Regions from separate parts of the Homo sapiens genome. Here region 1 is linked to region 2. Evidence: fine-mapped expression QTL. A gene starts in region 2. The other region holds a variant in brackets. All regions are shown on one strand. Distances are between the middles of the regions.

Evidence for each region. PIP is the estimated chance that this variant, and not a neighbour inherited with it, causes the effect.
Region 1: its variant is fine-mapped to the expression of PIP5K1B in tibial artery (GTEx, PIP 0.93).

Annotation. Positions count from the first base shown.
Region 1 is chr9:68,807,703-68,813,082 of GRCh38, forward strand. The region is part of intron 2 of PIP5K1B (phosphatidylinositol-4-phosphate 5-kinase type 1 beta); the gene reads left to right. Among named protein-coding and RNA genes, the nearest start is that of PABIR1, 30 kb to the left of the region's middle. The variant G/A (reference allele first, on the strand shown) is at 2,426.
Region 2 is chr9:68,702,985-68,708,364 of GRCh38, forward strand. PIP5K1B (phosphatidylinositol-4-phosphate 5-kinase type 1 beta) reads left to right here and starts at 2,256. Exons shown (of 16, transcript NM_003558.4): 1 at 2,256-2,778. RefSeq lists enhancers at 1,770-2,695, 3,384-3,473, 3,924-4,073 and a silencer at 2,114-2,633.

The DNA of each region.
Region 1 (5,380 bases), 100 kb after region 2:
TTTATTTGCATATAGTGTATCATAAATTGTTGTAATAATTGAATAATTCCCAAGGCATGTACTCTTAGGAAAAAAAGAGGAAAATAGCTTAGAAATAAAATGTGGACAAAAAGCATAAGCTGGTGAATGAAAAATGAGAAATATTGCCATGTAGTAAAGATATAATATTGTGAAGTCTACCCAGTATCAAATGTATGGTAAAAACTAGGGAAGAGGCTGGCACAGTGGCTCACACCTGTAATCCCAGCACTTTGGGAAGCCAAGGCAGGCAGATCCCTTGAGGTCAGGAGTTCGAGACCAGCTTGGCCAACATGGCAAAACCCTGTCTGTACCAAAAATACAAAAATTAGCCTGGCGTGGTGGTGTGCATCTGTAATATTAGCTACTCAGGAGGCTGAGGCGGGAGAGTCACTTGAGCCTGGGAGGCAGAGGTTGCAGTGAGCAGCGATCATGCCACTGCACTCCAGCCTGGGTGACAGAGCAAGATTCTGTCTCAAAAACAAAACAAAACAAAAGGGGAAGAAAAAATGTAAGCAAGTTATAGAGGCAAGAAGTTCAACTATGTGAGATTATTTGTGATTATCCCAGATGTGACTGGGAAGAGATAGAAAAGTAACAGTGTTAGTTAAATCTCCATGGATTCTTTGCCTCCATGCCAAATATCATGACTATCTAACTAATTACTCCCCCCGACTCCCAGCTTCCCCACCACCCCGACACTATCACCAGATACACACAGATACATACTATGTCTTTGTATATGTAAAATGAAAATCATTGCAGGACATCATGCAGTAGCAGTGTTTTTCATGAAAGGCTGTGAGTTACATTGGTCTGAAAGCAACACATCCGTCATGGCTGTTTTCACTGGCGACTTTCTTCTGTCTAATGTTTGCAATGAAGGCTTGGCTTGAAAAGGCTTATGAATTCTTTTAGCACAACCTTTGTTGGGAAAATGAATTACAAGTGGTTCATTTGATGCTGATCCTTTTGTCATTGCCATTTATAGCTATTCTGTTTATTCACTTTGGGAGAGCCATTCTGAGAATTGATGAATGTGTTTTATGAGAGAATATAAGAGCCCTGCAATTTGTTTTGATTGGTCTCCATTTGGATTCATAGCGAGCAGGTGCCATCGTTTGGAATTGGTTTTGGCAGTGGCTTGGTTATATAAATATTAGATACATGAAGTGAAACCTCATTTAAATTATTTTCATCAGTAAGAATAGGAGAGCTTTACATTGAATGTAAGACACCATAGTTCTATTTTTACAGCTTCTAAGCATACAAATGTGTAACATACCATATGTCTGAACATATGTATGTAGAAGTGGCCTCCATTGTACAAATATTTAACATACAGATTTTCTGCATTTCTTTGAGAGTTTATGCAAATATTCTTTAAAAAACTCTAAGCCTATAGTTTCTTAATATAAGAATTTTTTCTGGTCTGAAAAATACAGGCATTTCTGCTTTGGAAACTATGTTAAGGATTGTTTCAGTTTGGTGTTTTTTTTGTTGTTTAAGCCTCAGAAAATAACCCAGCACATTTTAAACCTTTGCTTTCTCCTGCTTTTTGTTGTTGTTGTTGTTACTGTTGTTTTTGTTGCCAAACCCACATTAAAAAAAATACCACGCCTCTTTGTAAGGGCTCTAGAAGAAGAACTATAATACTTCCTATCTTCCCAGCAAAACTGTTTACCAGGCTGACGTTTTCCTAAGAATAGCTCCCTAGGTTTTCATGAATCCATATAAATTTCCACACATTTGTTTTTTATTCTGGCACAAAATTTAAGAGGGACTTACGATCATAGGTGGAAGGAGCAATGAGGAAGTCTGTTGGTAACCCTTTAGGTAACATCCTAAACCTCGGGCTACTTGCGGGCAAATTGTTAAAATGCAGGACTCATGATCTCTGAGTACACCCATGAAAATTTAAATACCCTTCACGGTGCTGGGTCTTTTTGTAAGCAAGCCAACACGGTGCCCAGACTCTTTTCCACCCTCTAGCTCTCAACCTTATGTCCCCAGCAAACGGCTCTAAGTCCAATTTCAGTGTTCTTCATAAGTGAAGCTTTCCATGAGCCCCACAGGCTGACTTATGCAGTTCCTCCTCCAAAAACCCAGAGTAAAGGACATGCCACATTGTAAATTGTAGCCACTGCAATGCCTGTCTCTCCTGCTAATAGGATTCCTTTGAAGACGAGTACCTGTCCTTGTCATTATGGCCCCGGGCCTAGCTTACTGCCTGACATGTTATGCTCCATAAATGTTCATTGAATGAATGAAAGAGTGAATTTATTTGGTGTTAGGTAATAAAAATGAATTCAAAAGAGCATAAATAAAACAAAAATGATTGACTTTAACATGCAGGTGTGACCAAGGCCCAAATTATCTTCCAATTGCTTTGTCTTTCGGGAAATGC[G/A]CTAGGAAATGTTAACATACACAGCCTGAATGGCATGAAAATATTTGAATATGGCTATCCTATTGGAAGCCCAATTCCCATAGGGCAAGTTGCACTCATAATGACCAAATAATCAATGAGTCCTCTCCTCATTCCAAAGAGGATTTGAAGTGAGGCCCTACCTAAGAAACTTGGCAGAGGCACCAAAACAAAAGCACTATCTAATGGAGTTAGCGCAATTCATAATCGAAGAGAAGTGGACAGCAGCAGAGATGGACATGAAACCCAGGCCTTCGGAGGCCTATCCCAGCGTTCTTCCAATTCATTCTTGTTGCTTCACTTTATCAGTGTTTAATAAAGTGTTTGTTTTTATGGGAAGATGAGTAAGGACTCGTGGCTAGTGTCCCTTAACCTCTTGTGTCTACAGATTGGCCTACTTAGTTAAGTGATTAGGTAATTAGCAATTCTCCCACTTATTTGGCCATGTATGAGAAGCAAACTCATCTGTGGCAAATTAAAAATACTGAGTTTTATGGCCCTAGTTGGGGAATTAGAGGTTGAAAGGGTTGCTTCTGACTCACATATGGCCCCCAGGCACAATATATCTAAAACTTTCGGTAACTATAGAGTTTTAAAAAGCTCCTCTACCACCTTTTCAATTAAGACATGCCCTCTGGGTTGAGGCTTACTGATGTAGAACAAGTTTTATAGGAAAAAATTATGTAAATTAATATAATTGGCTAACCTTTTGATTGCACTTACAAATTGAAAAATGCGGTGCAATATTGATTAGACAATCTTCTCATTGTTTTTAAGTAGGAGAAAACAAGTAAAAGAGAGAGGTGTATGGTGGAAAGAGCATTAGTTTTGAAGTCAGACAACCCTGGATCAAATCTCAGCCCTACCACTTGACTGGACTCCAGGAAAATCATCCCAAGTCACAACCTCGCTCCTCTCCTTCCTCCTAGACTTAATGCAGGGGCTGCAGTAGACCCTGACTACTTGGTAGTGATCTATTTAAGCTCTTAACGGATTCCCAGAGCTATAACAATAGAAACGTGTGTACCAGTTCCTAGCCTACCTCCCAATCCACATTTCCATTGAGAATCATGTTTCTCAGGCTTATTCCCCTACTGCTTTCCCACTTTCATTATACTTTCTGTTTTGTTTTATGGCCCATCATTGGGTCGTTTGTCCTTAGAGCCATTCCTTACTCTTCCTGTGTTCTGTATCACAGGGAAGTCATCCCATATAGGATGCATTTCTCAGGCTTCCTATGGGCTCAGATGCTTTTCATGAGGTTGGTCTCTGGGAGCCATAGACAGGGATTGGCGGGTAGAAGGTAGATGAGAAAAACCAGGATGTTCTCCCCCAACCTGTGTGTCTTAGGTGGCATCTCCAATAGTGACTGTCTTCTCCATGCTTCTAAACATACCCCTCCTACTGCAGTTCCAACTTCTGCCAGTCAACCCCCGTCCTGATGTTCTGACCCCAGCTGACCTCTGCTTTTGAGGTCTGTTAACACCACCTTCTCTTGTGCCTGCAGCCCTAAAAGCAATAGTGGCATCATGTTGATTGTGATCTGTTTCATCACCATCTCTTGCTTAGCTTTTCAGTTCACCCATCACTTTTATAACCAATTCCATGTATTAAATATCCCCTCTTTAATATACCCAAAGTGGTTTCTGTTTTCCCTAATAGACCCTGAAAGCAATCCTGAAGTGATAAACTCTCTTTATTGCCTTTTCTGGTCACAGTAGCTTAGATGATCCCAAGCCTGTGAAGCGTGCTGAAAATACTGACTCCCTAGGTCTACCACGCAGAGGTAGTGATTCCCTGGTTTCAGTGTGTGGCCCCAGAAGCTGAATTTTCAAAAAGCTTCCCTGGTGGTTGTAATGCCCAGCACTGATTTAGAGAATGGCAAAGCCAGGCTGAGATGGAGGTGCGTGGGGTGGGAATGGATGGTTGCTAGGTTCATTCACCAACTAAGGGCGTCACTTTTACAAACCAGCCTCACAGCAAGAGAGCCCAGCTCAGCAAAATTAAAATGACTGCATCCCATGGACTTTATAGGACACTTACAAGTGTCAAAATAGCACATGTTAAATTGGGGAGTGCCAACGGATTCTTTGAAGAATAAATGAAATCACATATGTGGCAGCATTTCACACATCGTAGTTGCTCAATACATGATCTTCCCTTCTCTCAAATTGAGTGAAAACATAGAACTATAGAAAGCTATGAAATAGTATAAATTATTTATTCCTTAAGGTCACAGAATCCAGATACTAAATACCAGAAATAATAGATAAGTAACTACATAGTCAAAAAAAAGTCATTGTCTGGCACATATTATTGCTCACTGAGCTGGTGCTAAACAGTCCAATCATATGACACCATAGGTTAGCTCTCTTTCATATCAGAAATAATTTTTGAAAATAAGTTTTAACTAGGACTCTTGTGTCAGATTACATAGTAACATCTTCTAAGGAGACATGAACCTTGTGAGTATGTCCTTACTTGGCCATTGGAATTTCTGCATTCCAGGCTCTTGCCAGAGACTACAACTTTGAGTACTCCACTGTCCAATTCTTATCAAAAGACTGGTTAGGAGAAATAATATTCATGGAGGACTGCCTGAAAGATATGCAGCCTGTTCATTCCTCATTGAGATAACCTAAATTCTATTTGTGGTTTAAGTCAGGTTATCACATAGCTTCCTATTTGGATCTCCACGTATTTACTTCTTGTCAGTTTCTCTTTACTGGGGAAGATGAATGAAAAAAGGCACATCTATCATTATGGAATTTTGAACAATGTTAAAAGAGAAGACCCTCAGAGGTTTCCAGACAGAGAAAACCAGCATGCTTCTAGCGCAGGGAGCATCAGACTAACATGAAACTACTCATCTACAAAGTGGGAAGTAAGCAGTAAGCAATACAGTATTTACAGAGAGATGGGACAAAAGACCTGTGA
Region 2 (5,380 bases):
CATTATTAAAGTTTTGGACTGAGGTCAGGAATCAATTGAAAAAATTACATTTAAAATTAAGCAAAATAATTAGATGAATATTTTCTGATTTTTAAATAGGTTTCCAGAATTTCTGGCCAAGTCACTATTGCTCATGATATTGATGTTGTTGTATTATTTCCAATACAGGATGACTTTCCTAAATCCCTGTTGATAGAGTTGGAGATAGAATCAGGAAGAAATACCAGGTCTCATACTACATGGTCATTCATTCCATTAATCAATTCACAGTAATAATGCAATCGTAAGGCTCTTGGTAGAGTTCCTTAGAATCCTGCTTCATAAAGTTAGCTCTCTAAATAGCCAGTGGGCAGTCTGGTTGGACACTTCTCTCTGAAAACCTAAGGCTGTTTGCTTTTGGGCTTTACAGAAGTGGCTCAATACCAGGCTCATTAATGGGAAAAGGGTCATGTGTATGGATACATGTATTTGGACATTTATACGTAATGCGTGATCACTTTTGATCCAATGTTTGGCTTTACCTGTCTTCATCTCCCCTGCATTACCAGAAACTGACTTTGCACTTTCACTTACCACCGCCTCCCTGGGAGGCAAATTCATTTTCCACTCTGGATTTCATAGCTGAAGTCTGAGAAGCAGGAAAAGGAGAGACTGGGATTACCATTCCCAGATTCCAAACTAGCCTGCTAGTTACAGCGGTATGATGCTGCCCCCTATACAGTGATTCGTACCAGTCAGATGAACGGTTCTTTGATCGGTTCTTCTGTCCTCCACCACTGGTCTATCCACCCCATCTTGAACTTTGTTAATACAATATTTCTGCTAGTTATTGTTCAGGGATTGAGAGTCAGGGAAACTGTGTTCTGGTCCTTGGGTTACTTAATGTCTTGAGACCTTAGTTTCCTCATCTGTAAAGCGGGAGGGCTGGACTAGATGTATGTTCCTCCTGCTCTGAGCTGTGAAGCGTCTAGGATGCCAGGAGAAAACCAGACCCAAGTCACAGGGTTCTAAACAAACCATACCTTAAATCTCTCAGTAATGGCCAGCCACATCTGCAAGAAGCAGGCTGGGAAAACAGCTGAAGAATAACAGATATTTGTTTTATTTGTCAATTATGGCTCAGTAAAGCTAAAAAAAAATAGATACTTCTGTTATCAAGAAATTATTGCACTTGATTCAAGGCTGATATTAAACCATAGCAGACTCACTCAAGGTGGGGGGTGAGAGAAACAAAGAGATTACAAAACTGAAAAGAGGTGTTCATTTGCAGAGAACTAAGGGAGTATCCTTCAAACAGAAACTGGAAGCCAGAGATCTCTGAAGATAAGGATCATGAAATGTTGTTATTCCCCAGACAGAATGTATCCCACGTTTTCCACCGGCGTTGTTTTTGGTAAAGAAGGGTAAGTGGAAGGAAGTGATGAGGCTGAAAAATACCATTTGCTTCAATTCAGCCGCGAAGGATCCGCTACCTTTTGGTTCCTATTAAGTGAATTTAGCTTTAGCTTTCATGATAGCATTTTCCCAAAGGAGTCCTTTAGATCTGACCCCTACCCTCTTCGCAGCTAGACTGACATCAGGTGACGTTGCAAGTGCCCCCAGCCCACTAAGCGCTATCAGTAGGAATTGGCCCTCAGCCCCGTCACAGCGCTTTCCCATGACATCCCCCAGCTTCTCTCTCCTAGGACCTCCTCGCCAGCCTACCCCTACCTGTTGGGTAGGTCTTACTTGCTGGGAACACCTGCTGTCCTTAGAATGGGAGCAACCAACGCCTTGGAATCCTGGCCTGTCCCTTCCTCGTGAAGGGGGCGCCTGCGCTCAAGTGCCGGCTTCGCCGCCTCAGGCAGAGTCTAGCAGGCGGGCGACCAGGCGTAGCTGAGTTCTGTGGCCTGGGGAAAGGGGACGCCCTATCCCCACAGCCCTGTTTCGCAGGGCTTCAAGACGCTGAGAACGGCCGGGAACCCCTGGAGTCTTGGAGGCACCCGCCAATTCCAGGGGCCCACCCCAACCCCGCTCTCAGTCTGGGCCAGCGGCGGCGGGACAGGCGCCCGGTCCCCACACACCGGCTGAGACGCCCAGCCCACTGCGGCTGAAGCTCCGGCCGCTGTTGCGGCAGGTGCTGCAAACCGGTCTGCCTTCGCTGCAGGGCTTGCGGGGATGGGGCAAGTGGGTGGAGAGAAAAGGGGAAGAGCCTGGGCGGCCGGCAGGCGGGGCCTGCAGCCTCCCCAGCCGCGGCAGCCGCCGCGCAGCCGGCTCTCTCTGCGCCTCGCTCCGACTCCGGCGCGCACCAAGCGGGAACCCGCGCCCGAGCCCGGCGGGCGCCGCTGCTGCTCCTCTCGGTCCCCGGTTCCCGGTCCCCGAACGCGCCGCGGCGAGGCTGCGCCCGGCAGTGGAGCCGCTCGGAGCTGCTGGGCTTTGGCGGCCGCTCGCTGCTCCGTCTGGCCGGAGGACCGGCGGGGAAGGAAGGGGAAAGCGGGGACACACACACTCGCCGCGGCGCGCGCGCACTGCACACTCGTAGCCGCGCGCCCCCGCCAAGGCGCGTCCGGAGCGAGTTTGGCCCCGCGGCTCCAGCCCCGGCACCTGCCCGCCCTCAGCGTTGCCCCCGGCCCCGGCCCCGCCCGCCGCCCCCTCCGCCCTCCCGCCCCTCCCGCCCCTCCCGCCCCTCGCCTGCACTGCTCTCCCTTCGCTGTGGGGAAGCGACAACGTCCCGATAACTTGCAGACTGTGGCGCAACTGGTCTTGGTAGCGGAGGCACCCGAATGCTGCCCGGGTGAGGTAAGTTTCCTGTGCGTCCCCGGCCCCTTCCCACTAGACCCTTCTGAGGGGCTTGCGCTTAGGGGCTCTGCATCTCTGCTGAAACCCGTCGGTCTCTCTACCCTTCCACTTTGCCTGTCTGCGTTGTGCTGGGGGTGACGTGGAGAGGGCGCCCGTGGCCACCGAAGCGGACCTTCGTTCCGCGGGGGCCACAGCTGCGCGCTCCCAACGGACACCCACCCGCTCGTCACCCGGATCCCCGGGGCCGCAGTGACACTCGGAGATCACTCTGGGTTCACTTAAATAGGAGTACTCTCCCCTTTTCCGGGGAACCTGCAGAGTTTGGCAGCGGAAGGAAAGGTCTCCCACCACCCTCCCCCGGTACGAAACAGCGGTGAACTTGTTAGGCGCCCTGGTATCTCAAGAGGGGCTTGCGAGTTGGTGTTCTGCTCATTTCTGGCGCTGGTGCCGGATTGAACAGGTGCGGTATGGTTCCAGTCTAAATGCAGCAACAGACTTCTGCGTTTCCCAGGCTTTCTCCCCCAGCCTGGTCAACGTGACGCTTCAACATCTGGGGCAGGGGCTGGGAGTGTAGGGGCACTGGGGAGGGAGAATGCCCGGGTTTGATTTACTATGCCGGTGCCAGGAGTCGCCAGAACAGAAGAAAACAAATGTCTGCTTATCTGGCATCTATGCAGATGAGCGTGTTGTCATTTCTTATCCCCCCCAACCCCCAGCTCTCTTGTCTGGTGCCCAGCGTGGCTGAGTAGAAACCTATTCCGGAGAAGTTATTTGGGTAGATTGATTAATTCTTTCATCGAATCTACTGAAATCAGGGCTCCGAACAAGGCAATCCTAGTTACTCTGATGCTTTTTTAAAGGGAGCGTGTTACAGATCAGAAATAACACCCACTATCATCACTACCTCTCTGTGACATTCTCAGATGCAGGAGGCCCTAGCTTTAAGGGGAATGATCCTTAAGGGACCGGTAGGACCTCAGAATGTGTTAATCTCGTGCAAGGAAGAAGCGGTCTCTGTGTCAGTACTTCTGAGTCTCGGTTTGGGGAACCCCTTTTGTCCCTCTAATGAAGCACATTCAGCCAGAGACTTCTCCCCTGTTCTGCGAAGAGACTGAAGCGTTCTGCAGCTGTTGGAGTGGAGAAAGGCGAAAGGATTGGTTTCATTAGGACTCTAATGTGATGAAGTAAGGATGGGTTTCATTAGGACTCTAATGTGATGAAGTAGGGTAGTGTTCATGGAAGCTTTGCTAGAGCATTCCCAGCTGAAAGGAGACGCTGGGAAAAAACCTTAATCGGCCAAGTGTAAACCAGTGGGAGGTTGAGTGAGTTTCATGTGTGATCTCTGAGCGGAGGGAAACGGTGGTTCTGATATGGTCCTGTGGGCAGAGACTTATGAGGACTGATGAGAAAGCTGGTGAGTTTGAGACTGATGTATGATGACATCTTACCTGAGAAGGAAAACTGTGAAGCACTAAATGATAGAACCACATTACATTTTTGTCCACGTTAAGACTAGAGAGATTTAATAATAACACCTTACATTTGCATCAGTGTCTTGCAATTTGTAAATTCTTTTGAGTGTTCTCACCTAATTCCAAACATTTCTGAGGGAGGCAGGGCAAAGACTTTTTACCATGTAAACACAGAAGGAACATGAGGCTCACAGATTCAGAGATTTATCAAGGTAACAAGTGCTGGTATTAGAATCACAGTTAGGTTTTCTGTCATAACCAGGTGCCTGCTCTGTACTTATATAAGGTGGTTTTTTAAATGGCAGAGTTCTTCTGCATTTATTGTGGTCTGCATAGTCTCACTGTAAATTACTGTTTACATTTTACAGATGAGGAAACTGAGGTTTAGACAAGCAGTGGGAGTTTTCCATGGATTTACATCTCATTTAGTGGCATTTGCAAGACTAGAACTTGGATCTTCTGATGTCCAGTCCATTGCTTTGTGTATTCTGCCATCATTTCAGTTCTGATAGCAATGAGGACACATCATGGAAACTGCAATACACAAAGGACTGTTAAGCATGCCCCCAGTGACCTGGGTTCTAGTTCTGGGACTACATTTGGCCGTATGACCTGGGCCATCATATCACTTCCAAGTCTCAAGTGTCTCACATATAAAACAAAACGTTTGTATGAAATTATGTTTTTTCTTTCCAACTTTAGCATTTTGTGATGTTTACCAATGTGTTTGTAATCCAATGTTATCATTTTCTCTAGAGGAAGGAGACCTTTGTACCCCACATCACCTAAGAGACCTAGCTAATTACTCTTTCACCTTTAGTTTATCCCTTCCCCCCTTTACTACATGCCACTTCATCAAAGGAATGAAACTTAACAAGTGCGTTTTAGCTTAACATCTACAGTATATTGTTTAGTTTACTGTTTGACTTGAAAATATTCTGAGGGGTTAAAGTACTGTAAGGTACATGTCAGGGCTTACTTGAATATTCTAATTGTAAGCTCATAACTTTTTTTTTTTAGCTTTATGGTTTGCATAAAGTAAGTGCTCAGTAAATAGCTGTTGAATTAATGAAGGGGGTGAATGAAGTCATTCATAAGGAAAACATATGCTGTAAAACATAGAAAGCATC